4 linked regions of the Homo sapiens genome follow. The main gene of each other region encodes a partner of the protein of the gene in region 3 in a complex. Each region holds a gene or a part of one and is shown on either strand. Other genes may lie near its edges.

What was found.
Region 1: OGT (region 3) and KANSL2 share a complex: the UniProt entries of both Homo sapiens proteins name them as parts of the NSL complex.
Region 2: OGT (region 3) and KANSL3 share a complex: the UniProt entries of both Homo sapiens proteins name them as parts of the NSL complex.
Region 4: OGT (region 3) and KANSL1 share a complex: the UniProt entries of both Homo sapiens proteins name them as parts of the NSL complex.

The regions. Positions count from the first base shown.
Region 1 is NC_000012.12:48,652,707-48,658,269, reverse strand, and holds the end of KANSL2 (KAT8 regulatory NSL complex subunit 2), read left to right. Parts: intron 1-1,487; exon of another isoform or gene 1,488-1,622; intron 1,623-3,209; coding exon 3,210-3,329; intron 3,330-3,739; exon of another isoform or gene 3,740-3,888; intron 3,889-4,094; coding exon 4,095-4,226; 3' UTR 4,227-5,059; downstream 5,060-5,563. UniProt on the Homo sapiens protein: Non-catalytic component of the NSL histone acetyltransferase complex, a multiprotein complex that mediates histone H4 acetylation at 'Lys-5'- and 'Lys-8' (H4K5ac and H4K8ac) at transcription start sites and promotes transcription initiation.
Region 2 is NC_000002.12:96,593,294-96,600,328, reverse strand, and holds part of KANSL3 (KAT8 regulatory NSL complex subunit 3), read left to right. Parts: exon of another isoform or gene 1-203; coding exon of another isoform or gene 204-263; exon of another isoform or gene 264-676; intron 677-2,168; exon of another isoform or gene 2,169-2,248; intron 2,249-4,697; coding exon 4,698-4,718; 3' UTR 4,719-7,035. UniProt on the Homo sapiens protein: Non-catalytic component of the NSL histone acetyltransferase complex, a multiprotein complex that mediates histone H4 acetylation at 'Lys-5'- and 'Lys-8' (H4K5ac and H4K8ac) at transcription start sites and promotes transcription initiation.
Region 3 is NC_000023.11:71,571,069-71,576,392, forward strand, and holds the end of OGT (UDP-N-acetylglucosamine--peptide N-acetylglucosaminyltransferase 110 kDa subunit), read left to right. Parts: intron 1-2,551; coding exon 2,552-2,726; 3' UTR 2,727-4,824; downstream 4,825-5,324. UniProt on the Homo sapiens protein: Catalyzes the transfer of a single N-acetylglucosamine from UDP-GlcNAc to a serine or threonine residue in cytoplasmic and nuclear proteins resulting in their modification with a beta-linked N-acetylglucosamine (O-GlcNAc).
Region 4 is NC_000017.11:46,190,395-46,197,262, reverse strand, and holds the start of KANSL1 (KAT8 regulatory NSL complex subunit 1), read left to right. Parts: upstream 1-3,833; 5' UTR 3,834-4,440; intron 4,441-4,480; exon of another isoform or gene 4,481-4,844; intron 4,845-6,868. UniProt on the Homo sapiens protein: Non-catalytic component of the NSL histone acetyltransferase complex, a multiprotein complex that mediates histone H4 acetylation at 'Lys-5'- and 'Lys-8' (H4K5ac and H4K8ac) at transcription start sites and promotes transcription initiation.

The sequences.
Region 1 (5,563 bases), on a different chromosome or scaffold from region 3:
TTCAGTGTTTAAATAATTCCAAGCTAGTCATTATTATTTTTGACAGAGTCTCGCTCTGTCACCTAGGCTGGAGTGCATTGGCGTGATCTCGGCTCACTGCACTGTCTGCCTCCTGGGTTCAAGCGATTCTCCGGTCTAAGCCTTCCGAGTAGTTGGGATTACAGGTGCGCCCCACTGTGCTTGGCTAATTTTTGTATTTTTAGTAGAGACAGGGTTTCACCATGTTGGCCAGGCTGGTCTCAAGCTCCTGGCCTCAAGTGTTTCGCCCACCTTGGCCTCCCAAAGTGCTAGGATTACAGGCGTGAGCCACCGTGCCCATTCCAAGCTAATTGTTTATGTAAGAATTGCACATGGGCCGGGTGCGGTGGCTGACGCTTGTAATCCCAGCACTTTGGGAGTCCGAGACGGGTAGATCACCTGAGGTCAGGAGTTCTAGACTAGCCTGGCCAACATGGTGAAACTCCGTCTCTACCAAAAATACAACAATTAGCTGGATGTGGTGGCACGCGCCTGTAATCCCAGCTACTGGGGAGGCTGAGGCAGGAGAATCGCTTGAACCCAGGAGGTGGAGGTTGCAGTGAGCCAAGATCTTGCCATTGCACTCCAGCCTGGGTAACAAGAGTGAAACTCTGTCTCACACACACGCACGCACACACACACACACAAATTGCACATAGTAAAAGAATGGGAGAAAACAGATTTATAGTCTTAATGGTGTGAGAACACTGGTTTCTGTGGGTAGTACAGAAGTTTCCAACTCACCTGAAAATGAATGGTAGGTTGAGTGTATCCTGTGCCCTATGTTTCTGCTTAAATTGAGCAGCTTTATTTTATTATTTTTTTTTGAGACAGAGTCTTGCTCTGTTGCCCAGACTGGAGTGCAGTGGTGCAGTCTCGGCTCACTGCAACCTCTGCCTCCTGGGTTCAAGCAATTCTCCTGCCTCAGTGTCCTGAGTAGCTGGGACTACAGGTATGTGCCAAGACGCCTGGCTAATTTTTGTATTTTTAGTAGAGATGGGGTTTCACCATGTTGGCCAGGCTGGTAATTTTTTGTGGAGACTGGGTTTCACCATGTTAGCCAGGATGGTCTCAATCTCTTGACCTCATGATCCGCCCACCTTGGCCTCCCAAAGTGTTAGGATTGCAGGCGTGAGCCACTGCACCCGGCCTGAGCAGCTTTAAGTAGATTTTAAAATTATATATATTCTTTAATGTGAAGATGTTGTGATTCTCATTTTTGGTGATTAGCACACCAACAAATGGGAAAGGATTGCAAATTCTTAGATTTATTTAAAAGCGTAGAACTAAGCTTCTCGTGAAGCTAGATGAATAGAAACACGGAGCATCTATAAACTGGATTAAACATAGGGGGGTACAAACCTCCTGGATATTTTTAATTCTTAGGAAGAAGGAGAATTTAGCACCAGACTCTTGAAAAGCAGTGGCATGAAAGTTAGTTTGATATATTGTTTGAGTTTGTATTGCCTTAGGCCCTGAATCAAGACCAATGGTTTGCTGTAGCTGTTGGTTTCAAACAGGAGCTAAGAGTGATGTCTTCCTTGTGGTCTGTTGGCTATTCAGTATTCCAGTGCGAATTGCCAATTCAGTTGGAAGAAACATAGTCTAGAATGTAATGTCATTTTTTTTTTTTTTTTTTTTACAGAGCAAAACTATGTTAGGCTTAAGAACCAGGGAGTTGGCCGGGCGTGGTGGCTCATGCCTGTAATCCCAGCACTTTGGGAGGCTGAGGTGGGCCAATCACTGGTCGGGAGATCAAGGCCATCCTGGCTAACATGGTGAAACCCTGTCTCTACTAAAAATACAAAAAATTAGCTGGGCGTGGTGGCACACGCCCATAGTCCCAGCTACTGGGGAGGCTGAGGCAGGAGAATCACTTGAACCCAGGAGGCGGAGGTTGCAGTGAGCCGAGATCACGTCACTGCACTCCAGCCTGGGCGACAGAGCGAGACTCTGTCTCAAAAAAAAAAAAAACAAAACAAAAAAAACCAGGTTGTTGCTCTGTCGGGATAGGGACTTAACCAAAATAATATTTCCTAGCCATTCAGAGGAACTGTGAGTTTTCTGTTGTCCTTCCTTTCTTCCTACCTTCTCCCTTTCCCTTGTTGGAGCTTGTTTGCTTGCTTTGTGGCTGTTAGGATATTAATCAGGCAATCTTGTATTACCCAGCAATATTTAATTTTAACGTAGCATTGTTCATATTTAAATTAATCACTGGTGAACTTACATGTTCATTACAGGTAGCCTCAGAGAATATGCTTTTTTAAAAAATATTTTTTTAATTGTAGTAAAACATACATAACAAAATTTTACTCTTTTAACCTATGTATGTATGTGTGTAAGTAGGTGGGTAGGTAGAGATGGAGTCTTGCTGTGTCACCCAGGCTGGTCTTGAATTCCTGGCCTCAAGTGATCCTCCCACTTCGGCTTCCCAAGGTGTTGTTATCATAGGCATGAGCCACTGCACCTGGCCGTTTTTAAGTGTACAAGTCAGTGGTGTTATGAACATTTACCATGTTGTACAGCTATCACCATTTTCTGTTCCAGAACTTTTTCATCAACCCAAACAGAAACTTTGTACTTTTTAAACAGTAACTCTCTCCTTTCCCTTTCCCCTGTTCCCTACTATTCTCCGTTTCTACTTTGTGTTTCTGTGAATTTTCCTAGAATTTTTTTTTTTTTTGAGACAGGGTCTGGCTCTGCCACCCAGGTTAGAGTGCAGAGGTGCAGTCTCGGCTCACTGCAGCCTCTGCGTCCCAAGCTTGAGGGATCCTCCCACCTCAACCTCCAGAGTAGCTGGGACTACAGGTGTGTGCCACCGCGCCTGGCTTATTTTTGCAGTTTTTGTAGAGACGGGGTTTCACCATGTTGCCCAGGCTGGTCTTGAACTCCTGGGCTCAAGTGATATGCCTACCTTGGCCTCCCAAAGTGCTGGGATTAGAGGTGTGGTGGCCAGAATTTTGTTTTTTAATCTACTGTATTGGTCTATGTTTTACACTTGGCAGCAAAAGCTCTCAGTGCTTTTGGATCTTGTTTCATTTGTTGGACGCTCTTGTAAAATTTTTTTTTTATTAAAGGTAGGCTAGGGTTGAGGGAGACAGCAGAGTATTGCTTTAAAGTTTGCTGAAAAACATGCCAACTTTATTACTGTTTCCCTTGGTATTGCTGATGGGCTTTTCTCTTTTTTCTAGGACTTGGATGTTGTGGGTGATGGTATGCAGTGTCCTCCTTCACCTTTGCTTTTTGATCCTTCACTAACCCTTGAAGATCATTTAGTCAAAGAAATTGCTGAAGACCCAGTGGATATTTTGGCAAGTGAAGAACAGTCCCACCTGTTTCCCTCATGTAGTGACCTGGCCAGGCAGAGGGTTCCCTGCTAGATAGCATGTGCTCCTGGAGGGGAGTGGGGTGTCATCACTAGTATAAAGATGCTCCACATGTCTCTCACTTATTGAATACCATATAAGCAAAGCACTTTTAAAAATGCCCTACTCTGCTCCTGTGTACCCTTGTTGCTGTAGTTCTCCAGATGGGCTCTTAGAACACCTAATGGCCCGTGATCCTCATATCCCAGAGTAGGACATACATTTATTTAAATAAAAGCTTGAGACAAGGAATCTAGGGAAATCATACCTTCTGAGGGAGAGTTCATCACTGAAATTGTTCTCATTGTAGAAGGACCAGTAAAGTAATGTGATTTGAGTTCTGTCCGTGAGCCTTGGGTAGAATTCCAGTGGCCCTGACTGAAGACCAGCAGTTGTACTGTGGCTGTTGGTTTCAAGCAGAGGCCTAAAGGACTGTCTTCCTGTGGTCTGTTGGCTGTTCTGGGACCTCAGTAGGGAATGGCTATTTCATTTGGAAGAAACAACCTACAGCTCACCATCCCATTGGAAGAGGCTCAGGAATAGGCTCTTCCAAGGGACTAGGATAGCTAATATGGGAAGAGCATCTGTCCAGAATTAATTTCTGTTGTATTGTTCTTATTGCTAGTTTAAGTGGCCACTGATAAGTCAGATTCATACTTCAGACCACAGTGAATGAATTACTAACTGAAGTGCCTTTATTTCTTTTAACAGGGCCAGATGCAGATGGCTGGAGATGGGTGCAGATCCCAGGGATCTCGAAATTCTGAGAAAGCCTCTGCACCATTGTCTCAGAGTGGATTGGCTACTGCAAATGGGAAGCCAGAACCCACTTCTATTAGTTGATAGTTTGGGGAACCATTTTACTTTGGTGGATTTAAATTTCTCGTTCTTCAAAGAAGTATTTCTGATCATCTCTCACAAAACACAGGCAACCCAGACTACCTTGTTTTTCTTCTGGATTGAGTATTATAGTCAAACGTAAAGCCAAATTTTGAGGACGTGGACCGTGGGTTTCTTCCCACTCAGGGCAAGGAAGAGAAAGAGAGATAATCCCTATCAAAGCTTCTGGGATTATTTGGGACTATACCTAAAAGGAAAGTGACATCTTTGTAATGGGATTTCCCAAGTCATGGATAGAAATCCACTTAAGTAGCTAGGTGGGAGCTGTCTTTGTGAGTGGTGTCTTTGAGATACTGATGGCCCTAATATCGGTTATCTCTATCTGAAGACCTGCAGTTTAGCTTTTCTTCACCTCTACTTAATTGGGCAGTCTTTAACCCCTTTCCCTGGTGAACTCTGGCTTTTTATCCTCTGAGAAAACAGCCCACAGGACTGGGTCCTCCTTATCCGTCTTGCTTTTAACCTATGTAAATTTCTGTGGTTGCTATCTTATGTAAAATATAGTAAAAATTTATTGTATATAGTTTCTATTAAATGTTAAAGAAAATGTTATGAAAATATCAAACAGTCACCTGAATTGAATGCATGTTTTGTTTGAGAATATAGTTTCTTTTTCGCGGTTTTGGGGACCTGTCTCTGATGGGAAAGGGAAGTTGGGACAGATGATACTTCCATCCCAAGAAGTAAATAAATCTTCAGTAGCTCATTTTGGTTTTGCTTTGAAGGAAGAAGTAAATGAAAAGGGGCAGGACTTATTAAAGCCCATCAGTTCCAAATATCTTTCTTCTTTTTACCCTCCACTCTGTGTCTCCTACACCCACTCCCATTTCTCACGATTAATGCCAATGCCATCTCTGCCAGACGTGGTGGCTTACGCCTGTAATCCCAGCACTTTGGGAGGCTGAGGTAGGCGGATCACTTGAGCTCAGGACTTCAAGACCAGTCTGGGCAATGTGGTGAGACCCTGTGTCTATATTTTTAAATTTTAAATAATTATTTTTAAAAAAATAATGCTAATACCATCTCAGAATTCTCTAGTGGTAGGAATATACTTAAAACATAGAGAAATTGGGCCTGATGCTGGATCACTAAGATAGACATAGATAGGTATTGTCAAGATCGTTTTGACACTGAATCTTAGAGCAGGATTAAAATAGAAGTTCAGTTAGGGTTGAGGTACCTATGCTAGAAATTGTCTATTTCTATACTGCATTATGACAAGGAGGGCAAAAGATTACTTTCTATAAGAACTGAAATGGGCACAGAATGGCTTACAGTTA
Region 2 (7,035 bases), on a different chromosome or scaffold from region 3:
AAAGTTTCCCATGATGCTACTCCTAGAGATGATGTTCACTGTTAATAGCCTGATATGGATCCATTCAAATTTTTTTTTCTACACAAAGTATGTTATTTTATTTATTTTGTACAAATATGGGATTACAGAGTATGGACTGTTTTGTAACTTGCCTTTTTTTATAAATCATGTCGTGACACGTTTCCCTGTCTGTGTCTTTTCAGAGGCTGGCTAGTATTTCACTGAGTAGATGTATGAAGATGTATTTCACCACCTTCTGTTAGGTAGATAGCTGGGTTCTATTTTGGTTTTTGATATTTTAAATAATGCTCTGGTGAACACTTGTTTATTCTTGTGTACCTCTGGGAGCATTTCTCCAGGCCAGAGAATAAGTAGAGGATGTGTACCTCTAATATCTGGGCAGCTGCTCACTAACTGCCCTTCAAAAAGTTTTTGCTACTTTACAATTCTAGCCACGGTGATGAAAATATGTTTCATATTTTGTGGAAATCAAAATTTTAACTTTATTAATCTGGGTGAAAAATGAAATTGTTTTAATGTGCATTTTCCTGATTACTTAAGAAGTTTTATGTCTTTTATGAAATGTTTGTCATACTCTTTGAATTATAGTGGCTTTGTATATTCAGATGTTAAATCTTTATCTGTTACACAAATTACATATATGTTATTCCTGTCAGTGGCTCATATTTTTTTTTCTTTCTATTGAAGCATTCATTGAATGTCAGTCAGTCTTTTAACTTTTATTTCTAGATCATACAGCCATTTAAATGTTTCATATAGTAAAATCTTCAAATATTTTCCTTTATAGCTCCAAAGTTTTATGCCTTAAGAAAGCTAGCCCTATCACAAGAATATAAAAGTAATCCTTTTTGTTTTTAAAATTTGAATTGTGGTAAAACATATATAACATACAATGTACCATTTTAGCCATGTTTCAAGCTTACAGTTCAGTAGCATTGAGCACATTCACATTGTGGTACAGCCATCACCACCATCCATCTCCAGAACTTTTCTGTCATCCCATATTGAAACTCTCTCTTTGTGTTTTCTTATAATGCTTTTGCTTGTTTCCTTTAATTCCTTATAGTTCACTTTTGTATGTTAAGTGAGGTAAGGATGAGTCCATTCATCATTCCTCCACTCATCTAAAATCCACTGCTGTCACATTCTAAAGTACTGAACACATATGGGCCTGTTCTGTAGTTTTGAATTTGTCTATCCTACGCTGGCCTTCTGTTATGGGTTGATAGTATGGATCTTGAAGTTAAGGGAGTGTCAATTCTGTTTCTAGTTTGCTAAGATAATCTTCATTCTTTTCCTTTCTCATGATAGTTTTGAATTTTTTCCATTATTCTTTTAGAATCACATGAAATGAATGAGGATAAACATTTCCTTTTTTTTTTTTTTTTTTTTTTTTTTTGAGACAGTCTCACTCTTGTCACCCAGGCTGGAGTGCAGTGGCACGATCTCAGCTCACTGCAACCTCTGCCTGCCAAGTTCAAGCTATTCTCTTGCCTCAGCCTCCTGAGTAGCTGGGACTATAGGCTCATGCCACCACCCTCAGCTAATTTTTCTATTTTTAGTAGAGACAGGGTTTCACCATGTTGTCCAGGCTTGTCTTGAACTCCTGACCTCAAGTGATCCACCCACCTTGGCCTCCCAAAGTGTTGGGATTACAGGCGTGAGCCATCATGTCCGGCCAACGTTTCCTTCTAATCAGTTAAAATGATGAGTTACTTTAATAGGTTTCCTAATATCAAACTGTGTGAATTCTAGATGCAGTGGCTTTTTCAGTGTGTCCTATTCTTTTTATTATACATACAAAGGCAACAAGACCCTATCAAAAGAACGAAATGAAAAAAGAAAGAAGCTAAGCATTTCAAAAGAAAAGCATGTCTATTCTATTTGCTTTTATTTTACTTAGGATTTTGGCGTCTATATTAATCTCCTCAGGCTTTGGCCCATAGTTTTCTTCCCCTCCACCCCCTACTTCTGTGTGTGTGCTTTCCTTTGTCTAGTTATGTAAAAGGGGTAATTCAATCCTTGTAGAATGAGATGGGAAGTGCTTTTCCCCTCTCATACTCTAAAACAGTTTTATAGTACAGAAATGATAGTTCCTTGATGGGTTGATAGAAGTGACCTACAAAGCCATTTGGGCCTGTTTTTAGGGTGTCTTCGTTTGCTGATGCCATGTTGATGGACAACTAGAACACAGATCCTGCCACGTGATCCCTTCCTCCTGTGTTAGGTAATCCGTCTCAGCTTGCCATGGCCTGGGCCAGCCAGTTACCATTGAGAAGAGAGTAGAGGTCATTGAGAATCCCCCTTTTCTGGAGCTCAGTTGAAGCACAGAATAAAGATCAAGGTCTGGCCTTCTAACTGATGATGTTAACATGAGATTAGTTTTCATCTTAATAGAATGGACGTAGGCTGGGCATGGTGGTTCACGCCTGTAATCCCAGCACTTTGAGAGACCTAGGCGGGTGGATCACGAGGTCAAGAGATCGAAACCATCTTGACCAAAATGGTGAAACCCCATCTCTACTAAAAATACAAAAATTAGCTGGATGTGGTGGCGTGCACCTGTAATCCCAGCTACTTGGGAGGCTGAGGCAGGAGTATTGCTTGAACCTGGGAGGCGGAGGTTGCAGTGAGCTGAGATTGTACCATTGCACTCCAGCCTGGGCAACAGAGCCAGACTCTGTCTCAAAAAAATAAAATAAATAAATAAAATAAAGTGGATATGTAATTGCTAGGAGGAGTCAGGTGGTGATTCTTTTCCAACAAGCAAGGGGATGTTATTAGATTAAGGCTTCTTGCTGATTCAGAAGCTTCTAATAGCTCTGTTCAGATTGCCAGACAGAGCACTGGACTATGGGTCAGGTCATCTGTTTTCAGCCAGCTGTGTGATCCTGGGCAAATCACCTATCCTTCTGGGCTTTGGTTTTCTTACCTGGTTTAGAGAGGAAGTTGACTTAATTCAGTGACTGTTGTGGTGGCAGGATCAGAATCTCCTCAGGCTTTGGAAACCGACGTTTTTTAATGCTTAGAAACAAACTACCCATTTTTTTGACATTTATGAGGCAATTGGAAATTTTAACACTGACTGGATAGTTGTTGATATTACGGAATTGTTAACCTTTTTAATGTGTGATAATGGTATTGTTAGGATTTTAAAACAGTCATTTTTTATTTTGGGGTTCCATACTGCAATATTTTTGGATGGAATGAATTTAAAAAGAAAAGTGAACACCAACTAGACTTCTCTAAGATCTGTATAAGCACTTAATTATCTGTTTTGTTTCTGGCACTGATTGGTGTTTACTATGTGTTTCCTTCATGGGAATGGACTATTGTGTACTCATCACAGCTGAGAAGCTGCAGGGAGGAAGAGGACAGACAGAGACTATGTTGTGCCCTGCATCAGGGTCCAAAAAATGGACTCCCTGCCTGTGGTTATAAGTTCTCTCTCCTCTCTGTCCTGCTGGCCATACCAGGACCTTGTCAGCCTGGCAAGCAGCACCTCTAGCTGGAGGCCTCTGGCAGTGGGCCTCACTGTAGCCTTGTAGCAGGCTGTGGGCAAGCTGGCTCACTCTAAGGTGTATTCATAATCAGAACAGAGTGATCATCTGTGTACAGCCCTGCCTTTGGGCAGGGAAGCCCATGAGGTTTTGTTTTTGTTTTTGATTGAGATGGGGTCTTGCTATATTGCCCAGGTTGGTCTGGAACTCTGGGCTCCAGCAGTCTTCCCACCTCAGCCTCCCAAAGTGCTGGGATTGAAGTCATGAGGTTTGATTGTCAAACTCCTCTTCATTGGTGTGATTATGGCTCACTGCAGCCTCAACCTCTTGGGCTCAAACAATCCTGTGGCCTCGGCCTCCCGAGTAGCTGGGCCTATAAGGCATGCAGCACTATGCTCACCTAATGTTTGAAAAAATTTTGTAGAGATGGGCTAAGTTGCCCAGGCTGGTCTTAAACTTCTGGGCTCAAGCAGTCCTCCTGCCTGGCCTCCCAAAGTGTTGGGATTATAGGCATGAGCCACCTCGCCTGGCCTTCCCTCCTTTACTACATTCTCAGAGACCTCTTAGGAGTTTCCCAAGGGGGAAATTTAGAAAAGTGGGGAAAGCGTTGGTAAAAAAGGCCACCCTCTCTACTTGCTTCCTTATTCTTAAGCTGCAGGGCTCAACATTGATGGCATCCCCCCACACCTACATGTCTAAGGCCTCAAAATCAGAAGTCACGGAAATCTTCCCTTCTGTTCTGTTGCCCTTAAAAACTCACCTATTTCCTTTTTTCTGCATTCCTTTTCTGTCTTCATGTGTAATAATATGAGGTGACCTTTGTTGTTGAGCACAGATTAAACTCAGGAGCTTTATGTGGATTATTTCATTTAATCCTTACGGTGACCCTGGAAAGTAGATGCTGTCATCTACCTCTTACAGGCGAGGAAAAGGAGGCTCAGAGAACATAGGCACTTGCCTTAAAAAGTGGAAAGTTGAGTCTCTCACTCTAGAGTCCATGTTCTGTTAACCACTTGGCAGCTAGAACATGTGTCCTTGTGTATCCAACTTCTTTCCTATTGAGAATTAATTCTTTAAAATAAATTCTCAGGAGTTGGGATAATTGGGATAGAGGGTCTGAATATGATGATAACCTGTCAAAGCTTTGACCCTTCTTCACTACCTCTCCTGCCACAGCGCCTGCCTCCAGCACCCTGAAGATGCTGTGTGATATGTCCTCCTTACCAAGTTGGTGATGGCTGCCTCATGGTGGGCCCTGGACAGGTGTGTGGTCCTGCTGAGCTGTCCACGTGTCGGAAGACCTGTTTAAGACAGTCATTTTTGCCTCTCCGCCAACTGTCTTCAGAGAAACCATTAGGTTAGGTGATACGGTGCCAGCAAGGGAAGCACCATCGTCCAGGATCTGCAAATCTGGTTCCTGGGAACCCCAGACTCCTCAGCAGATCTGGCTGTACATGGATCAGAACCACTTCTTCCCCCGCTTAAGCTGTGGTTTGACCCAAGGGTCAGCATATAGGACTGCCTGCTGCATTTAATGAAGGTGTTTCCTTTTGGAAGTCTGTGCTACCCTCTGCGCCTAGTTGGGAGGAGACATCCATCTGGTCTGGGATTTCGGGAGTTAGAATGGAAAGCTCTTTGCTAAAGACTGGAGTCATCCTGGCCTGCCAACTGGTGGTTCAGAGCCGGACGGGCTTGTTTTGGACATCACTGTTGCCTTCACTCAGCAGCCACGGGAGAGTGCTCCCCATGCAACTCCACCTTAGAAACCACGTCAGATACTGAGTAGCTTGCTGACTCCTGGAAACTTCTGGTTTTTGTTAGTATCATAATGAAGGCAAAGAGAACTAGGCTGTCATCTTTCAGCCTCTTTGACTTACTCTAGATGTTGGGAGCAGTGGTTGCCAGGTGAAACCTGGGCCCTTTGTCTTTTTCACCATGCTTTGGGCAGTTTCTGTATCCAGAGAGTCCGCAGGTTCAGATAAGCTGAAGAAGAGTAATAGAACAGCAAAGGAAGTGGCTTGAAGGATGTGCTAGTAAGCCCTGTGGTTTGTGCTTAGGTCTCTGCTCTGCTACCCAAGGAACTGGTGGTTCAGCTGGAGATAAAAAGAAGAATTTGCCAAGTCAGAGAAGAAACCCCAACCCCGGAAAATCCTCTGTCTCCAGTCTCTGGAGGTGAAGCAGGGACAATAAGCTAAGGTAGTATCTTGGCCATCCCAGGAAACTTGTGGCATTAGGACGATGAAGGCCATGCTTCAGTGTTTTCGTTTCTATTTCATGAGACTTTTTGTCTTCCTGCTTACAAGTGGGAAGATGATTGACAGTGACTCTACTATGCAGGGCTGTTGGTACCAACCTGAGCCCTATAGGTGGCAGTCCCTGGAGAAGTGGTCACAGAAGATGGAGCTCTGATCCCCTGCTTACCTCTTCACAACACTTGTGTGCAAAGATAGTTTTAGATTTGGTTTAGAAGCTATCCTCCAGAACAGGCTCCCATACTTAGAATGTTTCTAGTTAAGGTAATAAATTAGGCAACCCAAGTGTGACTCCACTCAAGTGTCCTTTTCTGTAGGCAGGAAGGGCCCACAACATGGCTTAAAATGTAGTCCATGGTTCTGGCCCACAGTACAGTGTGTATCTATACCAGGTCACCTGTGTTCAATCTGGGAGCCTTCCTGGCCAGTCTGAGTGGCAGCCAGAAGGGAGCTCATAGTGTCTAGGAGTCTCAGGCAAGGTAGGTCAGGGTACTGTGGGCAGGGGGGATGTGTGTGATAGGAGAGGGTACCCTAAACCCCATACCTTCCCTCCCTGACCTGAAAAGCTGATCTCAACAGGGATTCACACAGAATTAGGCTGTGTTTTTGCATTAGCTGGTAGGTGACTTTCTCAAAATTCTTAAATTCAGAAAGTATTTAGTAAACTTGAGGAAGGTATGAAATCTGGAGGAGGCATCCAGGACCCAGGGGTTTGATAGCTTTACAGGTAGGATCATACCACACCAAAAGAGCAGTGGACAATAAGACTATATGAGCTATATGAAGCTTTTAGGAATCATTTAGGACAGACAGAGCCCTAAACAACCCATTCATGACTTAAGTTGTTGGCTCAGTGTATGCTGGGGACAAAGAAAAACTAACAAGCCGACCTGCCTTTATGATAAATTCTAGTGTGCTTACAAGGGATGACTTCCTGAGGTGTGATCTGTCCACCTTGAAGAACTCCACAACTGAAGAAGGGGAGCTGTGAGAACGTGGATTGTTCTACAACTTGCACAGGGTAACAGAGGAAGTGGCTGAGGCCTAGAGTCACGTTTTCCAGTTCCCTTCGCAAACTATATTTCTTGGAACGCGAAAGGAAGCTTTACCTATTTCATAGAAGACCTGGAATCCATAACCTCAGAAGGCAATATTATTGATAGAAAATGTGGAAGGATCAGGAAGTTCTTAGATTCTTGGATGACAGATGCATGTTGATGCCCTATGGAGATGTCCTTGTGTTTTGAGGTCACTGAGGTAGG
Region 3 (5,324 bases):
GGGATTACAGGCGCGTGAGACACTGCACCCAGCCTGTGGTGCATTTTAAAATTTTTATTAGACTCTTTGGTACTTAGTTTGGTTCATACAATGCTTTTCCTCAACATTTTTGTTCTCAAAATTTTTAATTTTATAATAAACACATCTATACCTACTGCTTAGAATCTACCATTAGCATTTTACTATTCTTGCTTTATTACATATCTATTCATCCATTTATTCCCTTTATTCATCTGCCAATCCATCTTATTGGACACATTTTGAAATAAATTGCAGACATCAGTACACTTCTCCTTAAATACTTAAGATTGGCTGTCATTAACTGGAGTTCAGTACACATATATTTTTTTGAGGTAGGGTCTCCCTCTGTTTCCCAGGCTGGAGTACAGTGATACGATCTCCGCTCACTGCAACTTCCGCCTCCCGGGCTCAAGCAGTCTTCCCCTCAAACTCCTGAATAGCTGGAAATACAAGCATGAGCCACCACACCTAGCTAATTTTTGTATTTTTAGTAGAGGCAGGGTTTTGGCAGGTTGCCCAGGCTGGTCTCAAACTCCTGACCTCAAGTGATCCACCTGCCTTGGCCTCCTGAAGTGTTGGGATTACAGGCGTGAGCCACTGCGCCTGGCCATTTTTTTCTTTTGAGGCGGAAGTTATATACAGTGAAATACACAAATATTCAGTGAGTTTTGAGAAATAACCCTTTTTTTTTTCGTTTTGAAACGGAGTCTTGCTCTGTCGCCCAAGTTGGAGTGCAGTGGTGTGATCTTGGCTCACTGCAGCCTCTGCCTCCTGGGTTCAAGCGATTCTCCTGCCTCAGCCTCTTGAGTAGCTGGGACTACAGGCACGTACCACCACACCCGGCTAATTTTTCATATTTTTAGTAGAGATGGGGTTTCACCGTGTTAGCCAGGATGGTCTTGATCTCCTGACCTTGTGATCCACCTGCCTCGGCCTCCCAAAGTGCTGGGATTACAGGTGTGAGCCACAGTGCCCAACCGAGAAATACCTTTGTAACCCAAATTCCTATGAAGACAAAAAACATTATCACTCCAGAGAGTTTCTTCATGCTCCTTATCAGTCAGTCTTTTTCACCAACCCCCAGAGACAACCACTGTTCTGGAGGGTTTTTTTCCCTTCCATAAATTAGTTTTGCTTTTCTAGAATTTTATCCAAATGGAACTATGTCAATATGCACTCTAAAGGCTTCTTTCATCAAGTTTATTTCTTTTGCTGAGTAGTATTTCACTGTATGAATGCACTACAGTTTATTTTCCTATTGGCATAGAATTTTAAAAAAATAGAGTGCACAGGTCTTTCTCTTTGGAGGGTAGCATTAATATGGACATGGTTGTATTGAGACCAACAGATATGCACAACCATTTTACTGCTTCTGTCACAACAAACATTAAAACAAAGTTGGGCGTGGTGGCGCATGCCTATAATCCCGGCGCTTTAAGAGGCTGAGGGAGGAGGATTGCTTGAGCCCAGGAGTTCGAGACCAGCCTGGACAACATGGCGAGACCCCATCTCTACAAAAAATACAAAAATAGCTGAGTGTGGTGATGCGTGCCTGTAGTCTCAGCTTCCCGGGAGGCTGGGGCAGGAGGATTGCTTGAGCTAAGGAGGTTCAGTCTGCAGTGAGCCATCATCGTTCCATTGCACTCCAGCCTGGGCAACAGAGTGAGACTCTATTTCAAAAATTAAAAGAAAATAAATAAAAATTATTGCTTTTAAAAATGCACAGAAATGTTCTGGCTTCTGGTTCTAAAGTATTTATCCCTTCATCTAAGAATAATCTCATGAAAAATATATTCAAAAGGGAAGTAGAAATCTTTTCCCCTGTGTTTCCTGAAGAATCAATTACTTCTTTTTTATTTTTCTGAACAGAACCATACTCTTGGTGATATTAGCAATTTTTAAAAATCTGAACTCAGTTCAGGTACAAGTGGAAAATTACGAGAGTAGACTTATTGTATTTCTTTTCCCCTTGAGTGGTTTTCTGTTTCATCAAAATGACCATAAATCGAATACTTCATCTTATGTTTATGCTTTAACTTTTGTAAATGATGCTTCAATGAATATCTTTGCATGGTCCTGTATGTTTTTGCATCTGATTATTTCTTTTTAATAGATTTTAAAGTGTTACTGTTAGGCCAGAGGGTTATGAACATTTAAGGTTAATACATACTTGCTAAATTGCTTACCAAAAAGGTAAGCAACAGTACATAGGAATAGTCATGTGCCGTTGTCAATTCTTGTTATTTTAAAGGTAGAAACAAGACGAAATGGAGAACGCGTGGTATCCCTTGGATATACTTGTTTAGGAAAGAACTAAGTTTTTTCAGAGTATATGGAGTTGAGCTCATTTCAGTGTTAGCATTATGCAAGATGTGACCCTTCCCTTTTTAGCACGAAGCCAATCAAGAAATGAGATAGCGTAGAGTTTGGTCATGCATTTTTTGCCACAAATGCGACTAGGTATTTATAGGGTGTGTTTCTGAGTTTCTGCTCTGATTTGTAAACTGGGTTCTTGTTTTTTATTACCCAGCCTGAAGAAAGTTCGTGGCAAAGTCTGGAAGCAAAGAATATCTAGCCCTCTGTTCAACACCAAACAATACACAATGGAACTAGAGCGGCTCTATCTACAGATGTGGGAGCATTATGCAGCTGGCAACAAACCTGACCACATGATTAAGCCTGTTGAAGTCACTGAGTCAGCATAAATAAAGACTGCACAGGAGAATTACCCCTATACCTGAGCCTCAACCTTCTGGGGGAAAGGGAACTAGATAACATACTTCTTACTTGTCTGTACAGTACCTTGTTGCAGATGGGTGATATATAATGGTAATAGAATAGCACAGCCAGACTTGCTTCCTGCATGGTAGGGAGAGACACAAAAGATGGGAAACTGCTTTTCCACAAGGAATCTCCGTAGAATTTTGCGGCGACCAGATGGTGCATAGGTCTGGAAGGTCTGATCTCCCTTGGTCTTCCATGGGATGGTTAGTGTGGAGGGGAGATATAGATTGTCCGGCCGCTTTGTGATTCCATGGATTGATTCAGTCTTCTGGATTTTTTTTTCTTTATATTTTGGGTACTGGAGCTTTTAAAAATGTTTGGTTTCAGGTATTTTTATTCATGTGAAGTGTATATGATTCTCTTGAGATAAGGTTTTAAGCTAAAATGTTACTCCCTGTTTTAGTTTCTGAACTCTGACAGATTGACAGGGACTTTGCTGGTGTAGTCTTTTTATAGGTTTTATAAACCACTTGAGCCTATATCAGTCGTTTTAGTGTCTGACCTAATATTTGGAGCTATCAGTGCTTTGTTGATTTAGATGATGACTCAAGATTTTTTCTGGTCCATTTCCCATTTCCTTTTCTTCCCTGACCCCCATACCCTCACCCTTAAAATTCTCCTGTAACTCAACTAACAAAATCAAGCCTGATTCAAAACATCCTAGGGTGTTTTAAACACACCATCTGGTGCCAAATGAAGATTTTTAGGAGTGATTACTAATTATCAAGGGCACAGTTGTGGTACTGTCATTGATAATAATATAGTTTTTTTTTTTTTCCTAATTTTGACCTGTTTCACCAGTGTTTTACCCTTGACTGCCCCTTCTATGCTGCTTCCAAAAGTGATAGTGTGTGTAAGATTTTTACCTTCCTTTCTAAAGTTTTTTTTTTTTTTTTTTAAGTGAGTCCTGTTCTTCCTATTTCTTTCAGCAGAAATGAAATCCCAGGTAAGTATAAGTATTCAAGTATTTGATCAGTAAGTCACAGTTATCTCCAGTGCATTAAATAACCTTCATCAAGAAATAGGTTATAGGTAAAATCTCTGAAGGATCATCTATGTATTCAAGTAATTATTTTTTAGATAATAACTGTCTTCTGGACTTGGTCTTGAAGTCTGTACAGATTCAGCCTCAGTAGTAGCGAACTGCACTGCTGTTTGGTTTGGAGTACAAATTAGACTTATAGTCCTCCTGGAACTTGAGTTATTAAAATCATAGGAATAAAATTATGGGATCTCAACAAAGGGTCGAGGGTTTGAGGCTTAAACAAGCCAACATATGAATATATGTTTTGTCTCGCTATACTGCACTTACGCTATCCAGTTGCAGGTAATTTTTTGTCTGCTAGTAGTGTTCTAGATTATGTCTTTCCAAAGCGCTGAGGCTGTGCACCTATTCTGTAGTTGCAGCTGATGCCTGAATGTATCCTAGCTGACAAATTATTGATTAATAAGAACTTGAATTTCTGGAAGATTCTTACTGTTAACCAAATTTTGAGCAAGGAGTCTCAAAGGTAATTCTGAACCAGAATTACATGTTAATGAACAGTGTACCTTTTAACAGTGTAAATCACGGAATATCCGTGAAGGGATTTCTTAATTTATTTTTTACCGGTTGATTGAAATATCAGTTAAAGGTTGCCAGCATGGTTGCAGATAAACTGATGTTTGAAATTCGCTGAAATACTTAATGTGGAATAGGATAATATACTTCCAATGCCCTCAAGGCTGTGACCTTACAGCCATTTTACATAGCACATCATTCCTCCTATAGGGATGAACTTTTTCCTGGCACGAAAAGTAGCCGCTCTGGTTGAAGCTTTGCTTATTGTAACAGGCTTTTATTTCCAGGTAATATGTCTTGGAAGACTTAATTCTGATTAGAGATATAGATATTACTGGAAACTAATTGTTTTTTTTCTATTGTACTCTGCTTTATCAAAGAAGTAAAACATTTAAATCGTACTACAGAAATTAAGATGTTGTCTTGCGATCCTTAATAAATGAATGATTTCCCTTTAATACGGCTGATGTATTTTGTATCCTGTTATATTGAGTGTTGGACTGAAGAATAGTGTCATCCAATGATGAAACCTATATTTAAACACCTCCAAACAGCATGAAAGGACCAAATTTCCCTACTGTAGCTATGATATTAGGAATTGTTTTCTCAGCCAGGTCTGGTAGAGGGTGGGGTTAGTTTATGATCCATTAAGAAGGCAAAGTGGCCTTGTGTGGTGGCTCACGCCTGTAACCCCAGCACTTTGGGAGGCGGAGGCAGGTGGATCACTTGAGGTCAGGAGTTCAAGACCAGCCTGGCTAACATGGTGAAACCCTGTCTCTACTAAAAATACAAAAAAACTAGCCGGGAGTGGTGGCACACGCTTGTAATCCCAACTACATGCGAGGCTGAGACAGGAGAATCGCTTGAACCCGGGAGGCAGAGGTTGCAGTGAGCTGAGATCGTGCCATTGCATTCCAGCCTGGACAACAGAGTGAGATGTCATCTCAAAAAAAAAAAA
Region 4 (6,868 bases), on a different chromosome or scaffold from region 3:
AAGGAATGGTGGTAATGAGGGATGGTCCTCTTTTTCTAGGTAGAGAGAACACAGACAAAGATGGATGGATACAGAGCTGTGTGTAAGAGGGAACACCTTTTCCTTTTTTCTTTCTTTCCTTCCTCCCTTCCTTTCTTTTTCTTTTTTTGGAGACGGGGTGTTGCTCTGTTGCCCAGGCTGGTTTGCAGTGGCGTGATCATGGTTCACTGCAGCCTTGACCTCCTGGGCTCAAGTGATCCTCCTGCCTGAGCCTCTGAGTAGCTTGGACTACAGGTGTATGCCACCACCCCCGGCTAAATTTTTTTATTATTTATTTTTTGAAGAGATGAAGTTTTGCTGTTTTCCCTGGGCTGTTCTCAAACTCCTGGGCTCAAGCAATACTCTCACATTGGCCTCTCAAAGTGCTGGGATTATAGGTGTGAGCCACCATGCCTGGCCATGGAATGTCTTTTCTGAGGAAGAAATAATAAGATTAGTTATATAAAATACTGTAATCATAAAGTAAGATACAAATACTAAAAAACATTAGAACTCAATCATTGTTTTTTGACTTCATTTATTATATAAGGAACCTAACTCAAATTGGCTTAAGCAATTAATAAATGTTTATTGTTACATTGTTGTAATGTGGCTGGAAATCCAGAAGTCATACAAATTGTCAGGATTGGTTGATACAGTGGCTTAATGCTATCACCAAGGACCAACTCTCTATTCCCTTTGATGTTGGTGGCATCTTCAGGCTTGCTGCAAAGGTGACTGTAGCAGTTTGAGGTGTCACTGTCTGAGGAAGAGGGACTGTTTTTTCCTCCATCATTTTTAGGATTGAAGAACCTTTTCTCACAGTTCTCTTTTGGAGGCTGTCCAGGGGGCTTCTACTCACATCTCATGGCCATTCCTAACCAATCATTGGCAAAGAGAATGGGTTAAAACTAATCAGAATAGAGTGGATATTGGAGAGTCAACATGACTATTCCAAGAGTGATTTGAAATATGTTGGTGTTTTTATTTTTTTATCACTTTTCATTTTGAGATGGTCTCGCTCTGTTGCCCAGGTTGGACTACAATGGCATGATCATGACTCACTGCAGCCTTGACCTCCCAGGCTCAAGCAATCCCCTCAGCTTCTGGAGTAGCTGGGACTGTAAGCACATGCTACCACACTTGGCTAATTTAAAATTTTGTTTGTAGAGATAGGGTCTCACTCTGTTGCCCAGGCTGGTCTCTAACTCCGGAGCTCAAGTGATCCTCCCACCTCACCCTCCCAAAGTGCTGGGATTACAGGAGTGAGCTGCTGCACCAGGCCTTTTTCTTTAAATCTTTTTTTGTTTGTTTGTTTTATTTTGTATGTAGGTGTTTTCAATCAGCCTTTTGGACATCCACTATTTTTTGGGGGGAAATTTAAGAAAATTTGTTTCTCTTCATAAGATTTTTGTGTGGTGGCTCATGCCTGTAATGCCAGCACTCGAGTCCAGGAGTTCGAGACCAGCCTGGGCAACATAGGGAGACTCTGTATCTACCAAAACAAAAAGGAGTGAAAAAAATAACAGCTGGGCATGGTGGCATATGCCTGTAGTGCCAGCTACTCAAGAGGCTGAGGTAGGATCGCCTGAGCCTGGGAGGCTGCAGTGAGTTTGATTGCACCACTGCACTCTAGCCTGGGCAACCGAGCAGGACCCTGTCAAAAAAATAAAAGTACAAGTGGATGCCTAATAAGAAAGATGTCTGATTTTAGATAAGAATATACAACAGGTTGACTGATTTAAGTGCCATAAACCCTGTGAACTCTTGACTCTTGCACTAAGCAATGAGAGAAAGGGGAAACTGGAATTTATAGTTCCCCCAAATACATGGTTTTAAAAATGAGCATTTTCCAGTTTTCTCCTAATCCATTAGAAAAATATATTTCATATAATCTTGCTTATTTGGTTGCCTAATTAAATCTGACAGTTCAGTCTTAAAAATTTGGAGCAGCAGTAAGATTATTTTGTTATGGTGTGTCTGAATTTAATATTTAAGTATACGCTGCAAAGGGCTTTGCCTTATTTGGTATTTTTCATTCTGCTAATTTAGATTTCAGGAGCCTCAGATTGGGGCTCTAGTTCGCCATCTGTTGGTCCAATACCCTTCTACTGTATTTTGTGGAATTACTATTTATGTGTGTATGTGTGTACAATAAAAAAGTCAAAGTTTTTCCCCAGGGTTGTAAATTAAAAATCCAAGACTAAAGACCTCTTTTGGATGTGTATACAAATATTAGTTTATTCTTTGTGTAATTTGACCCTATGACTCCAAACTGCCTGCCTTTGGTATTTGAGAACTATGACTATGCTTGAGAGTGTGATTTTAGGAGTACAAATGGAAATTCGCAGAAACCTAGGTGCAGATGTTGCAGGGGCAGGTGAGTTAGTGTAACTTTGTGGGAAGACTAAAACCGTTCTGTAACGACTGTGAGGGTGTTTTTTGATAAGCAGAAGTGACGTATAATGCCGGATATTGGTTCTGGTAAGCCACAAAAAAGTGTGAAGCATTTTGCGTCTTCCTTTTTGGTAGTAGAGCATACATACCCTTCTTATCTGCCGAATTTGATGATTTAATGATTTGAACGATTTTTTCTTCAGTCATTTAAGCCAGTTTTGATGAATCCTAGATTAGTCTTTTAAATCTCAAGATACTCCACTCATCTTTTGGCAACTTTAAAGGGTGGTAGAATTACACTTTGTGTGACACTTTGTATTACATTATGTTTATGAATTCTTTAAGTCTAGGAAAGGTTCCATTATTTTAAAGGTCCTATTTTGGGGACAATATAAAGTTCTGTACTGATAAACTGGTCATGAGAAATGATAAGGTGCCACCACTTTAAACCAACTCTGGTAACGAGGTGGGAAGTTGGCTTTTTGTTGTGAGACTTGTGTTTCTTTATGGAGTTCTTTGTTAAACTTTTAGCATGGCAGTGAACTTCCTTTTGGTGGCGGCAGGAAGCATAAATACTCATTGTGTAATGCCATTTGCCTGTTTTGGCGGATCTGCCAAGCCATGACACCCAAAACAAGACGCGTGTTTCTTCACGAAAACTACAGTTCCCAGCGGGCCCGGCGCCGGCGGGGCCATCACTTCCCCTCTGGCTCCCGGCTGTCCCTTCCCGGGCTGGCCCGGCGCGGGCCCTGGCTGGGGCCTGCGCAGTGACTACGTGCACCCTCCCCACCCCGCCCAACTCTGGTGGCTGCGGAGCGCGGTGCTGGGGCTAGTGCCCAGCCGTGCTGCAGTATACGGAGGCTGGCTGCTAGGGACAAAGGGCGGGCGGCGGAAGCCGCTTCACTGGTCAGGGAGCTTTCTGCAGGGTTAGCCTTGGAATAGTGTGGTGCCGACGGCCTTACCCTCTTTACTACACAGTGCAAACAGTTCCTCGCTCACGTCCTCTCGCTCCGCGGCGCCGGCCCGCCCTGCCCCTCAACTGGCGAGCCGCACCGCCGGCCCCAGCACGGAGGGCATGTGACGGCGTCAGTGCCTCAGGTTAGACTCACCTCGGCCGCAGCGAGGGCTGGCTTCCCCCTGCCGCAGTGCTGCGTGCCGTCGCCGCACGTCCGGGGCAGCTGGGGCCGGGCGCCGCGGCCTCCGCAGATGGAGGTACAAAAACATCGGCCACGGCGAGGAGCCATGACTGAGGCGGCGGCGGCCGCGCCTCCTGGCGGCCCGCGGGGGCGGCGCGGCGGGCGCCCCCTGGCGGCGCGCCGGGGTGGAGCGGCCCTTCGCCGCCGCAGCCGCAGCCGGCGGAGGCGCTGCTGTCCCTCCTCCCCGTGTCCCCGGCGCTCGCCCGCTTGCTCGCTCGCTCCATTCTCCCTCCGCTTCAGATTAAAGGGGGGGAGGGAAAAGGAGCTCGGCCGCCATTTTCCCAGTGCCGCCGCCACCGCCGCCACCGCTCGCCGAGCCGGCGGGAGAACCGAGCACCGTAGCGAAGCCGACTCGTCTCGCCGCGGCGGCGCGGGGGGCGGCTGAAGCGCGCTCCCCGGCTGGAAAGAGGCGGCCGGGGGTGGCGGCCTGGGTGCGGGTTCGGGCTGCAGACGGCGGTGCTTGTTTGTGCGGGGCGGGGGGGCGGTTTCACTCTCTGCCCCCGCCCGCCCGCCCTCCCGGCCGGGCTGCGGTCTCCAGCCGTGCTCGGGCCCCGTCGGTGCGGAGCAAGGCCGGGAAAGGGCCCGAAAGAGAAGAAAAAGCAGCCGCTCCCCGCCGCCGCCTTCCCCTCCCCCTCTGCCTCGCCCCCCCGCCCGGAAAGTCAGGGCGGCTCCGGGCGTCGGGGGGAGGAGAGCGGCGGGCCCGGGCCGGAGCCGCCGTCGCGCGCCCCCGCCCGCCGCTGGCCCTCGGCGCCCAGGCCGGGGGGCTGTTTGCAAACTGCGCCCATTTTGTGGGGCTGAATCCGCCCGGGCTACGCTCCTCCATCACGTGGTAGGTGCTGCTGCTGCTCCTCTCCTCCTCCTCCTGCTGCCCTTTCTCCTTCTCCTCGCTCTCCCTGTGGCTCCCATTTCTCTCTCTCTTTGTTAGTTGTAACTAGAAAGGCAGGGCAGGGTAGAAAAATCCCCCGGAACTTTAAATGGCCTCTCCGGGCTTCCCTGCTGCGGGTCCGGGCTGGGAGTCGCCCCAAGGGCGGGGGTGTGCGGGGGCCCTTCCCCAGGAGCTGCCGCCTCGTTCGCCAGCTTTTCCTTTGGCGTTCTATTTAAAAAGGCGGCCTGAAGAACATGATTTATTCCCGTAAAAGAACCCCCCAAACAAACTCTGGCTCTCGCCTTGAACTTCTCTTGACTGCAAAAGGCCTTTCTCTGCTCGAAACACACATCTTGGCGCGTTGCACGGTTTGTATCACAACTCTGATTGTTTCATTTATTATTTTTGTTGCCTGTAAATTCAGGTCACTTACGTTTTCAGATGTAGTCTCCCTCAGGCGGACTTTTTTTTTTTTTAAACTAAAGAGGAAGAGGGATTTATTTGCTTTTAAGTGAGTTGGAATCTTAACTGCCTTTTTGGGGGCCTGTTTTCCGGCTGACGGTCTTTTGATTCTTAGCAAATAGTTTGTTTTCCATACGATAAACAGCGCTACTCCCGTGTCTTACTTAAAAATCCTCGTTTTCCAATGTTGGAATCCCAATGTGGATTTATAGAGAAACGTGCTACTTAACTATTGCTTACTGATTGCTTTAGGGGAGAAGGGGTGACATGATGGCGCCACTTTAAATTGCTCTCTTTCCTTTTCCTCGGTCCCCCCCACCCCCCTTTATCCTGGAGGTCACTGGAGCATTTTCTGTGACTTATTAATAAAACTGTACTTGAGGGTGTTAGAAGCACAACTCGTAGGGGCTGGAGTTTAGTGCTCCTAGGGTCGGCAGACCGACTGCCGCGGTCCCCAAAGTTCCGAGAAATCTCTCTTCCTCCAGCCTCGCCTCCCTCCCCTCCATTCACAATCCTGGTGTTGCCATCTCCTTTGTCACGTGGCTAGCAATCATTGTGTTTTTTTGTTTGTTTTGGGGTGTGTGTTTATATTTTTAAATTGCAGCTCAGAGGAACCTTTCCTTTTCGCTTTGGAGAGATCAAAACGTTTTACTTGTTTTAGTTTTAGAGTCGGAGAACATTTTAAAATAAACGATAAAATTACATAATCTTTGCCTTGCATAATCATGATATAGTTATAGATTGCTACTGAACTTCATTTTGAAAGTCCTTTCAAGTATGGAAACTAGTACGTTAGAATATGTTTTCCATTTGTCAGGATGGTCTGTAATTTCTGTTTTCTCTGCTTTTTGGGTCAGTTAAAGGACCACTATTTACAAAGGCTTAAGTGGGTGTGTTTTCCCTTTCCCCTTTCCTATAGGCTCTACTTGGTTCCTTTTCTAGCATGCTGTCTGACCAATTTAGAAAATTTCAATTGTCTACAGGCGTTGTCAGTTAAAACTATTTTTTTAACCTATCAACAGTGAATACTTTTGAGTAGTAATTGTTTTGTGCCTAATGCTAAGTGTATTTATTAGCATTTCGGTGTTGATCTAGAAAATTTTTACTTTTAATCCTGTAGTTTTAGAAGTATGTTATTCCTTTATCTGTTTCTTTATATCAGTTTTTCCCATAATTGGGTAAACTCCTATTTTATAAAATACGAAGTACATTTCTGGTTTTTTCTACATAGGTTACTAGACATTTTTTCAATTTGAAAAAACATTTTGAATTAAGAAACTTTTTTTTTAAAGTAAATACGAAATGTGGTTCTTGAGTATGCATTGATCCTGATTTACCATGTACATTGTCAATGGTTTGGACCATTTTCTTTGCTAACAGTTACATCATGTCATGTGATATGTGCAGTGTGATGTGTAGTTCTAAAAATAAGGCAAGGTAAAAATGCTCATCCCTTGGGAATTTAAAAAATGTATTATAAATGTGGAATAACTACCTTCAGTCATGAAATTCTGAATTGGATTTCCACTAGGTTTATGCAACAAAGTGTGCCGTTCCTTCGACCTTTAGCATATTTGGTGTATTTGTTAGTACCTCATAATTTGAGGTGATTGACTTTTTATTTTTTGAACTACTTGGAGGGAAACATTAAATGTTACAAAGGTTCTTAATGTCTATATTATGGTGAAGATGGTTGTCACTGATGGCCACCTCATTTGAGTATATACCAGTGTCTGTGATTGTGACCAGTTAAAAGAATGATCAGTTAAGAATTATTAGAGCCTTTATGGTAGGGTGGGATTTTCGGTCTTTCCATCTATATGAGTCCACTGAAGTGAAGTATTTTAGAAGTTTTCTTGCATCTTTTCTGAAAGCCACGTTCAGAACATTCGTATTTGACTTTGGTGCTTTACCAACGTGAGATGTTAAA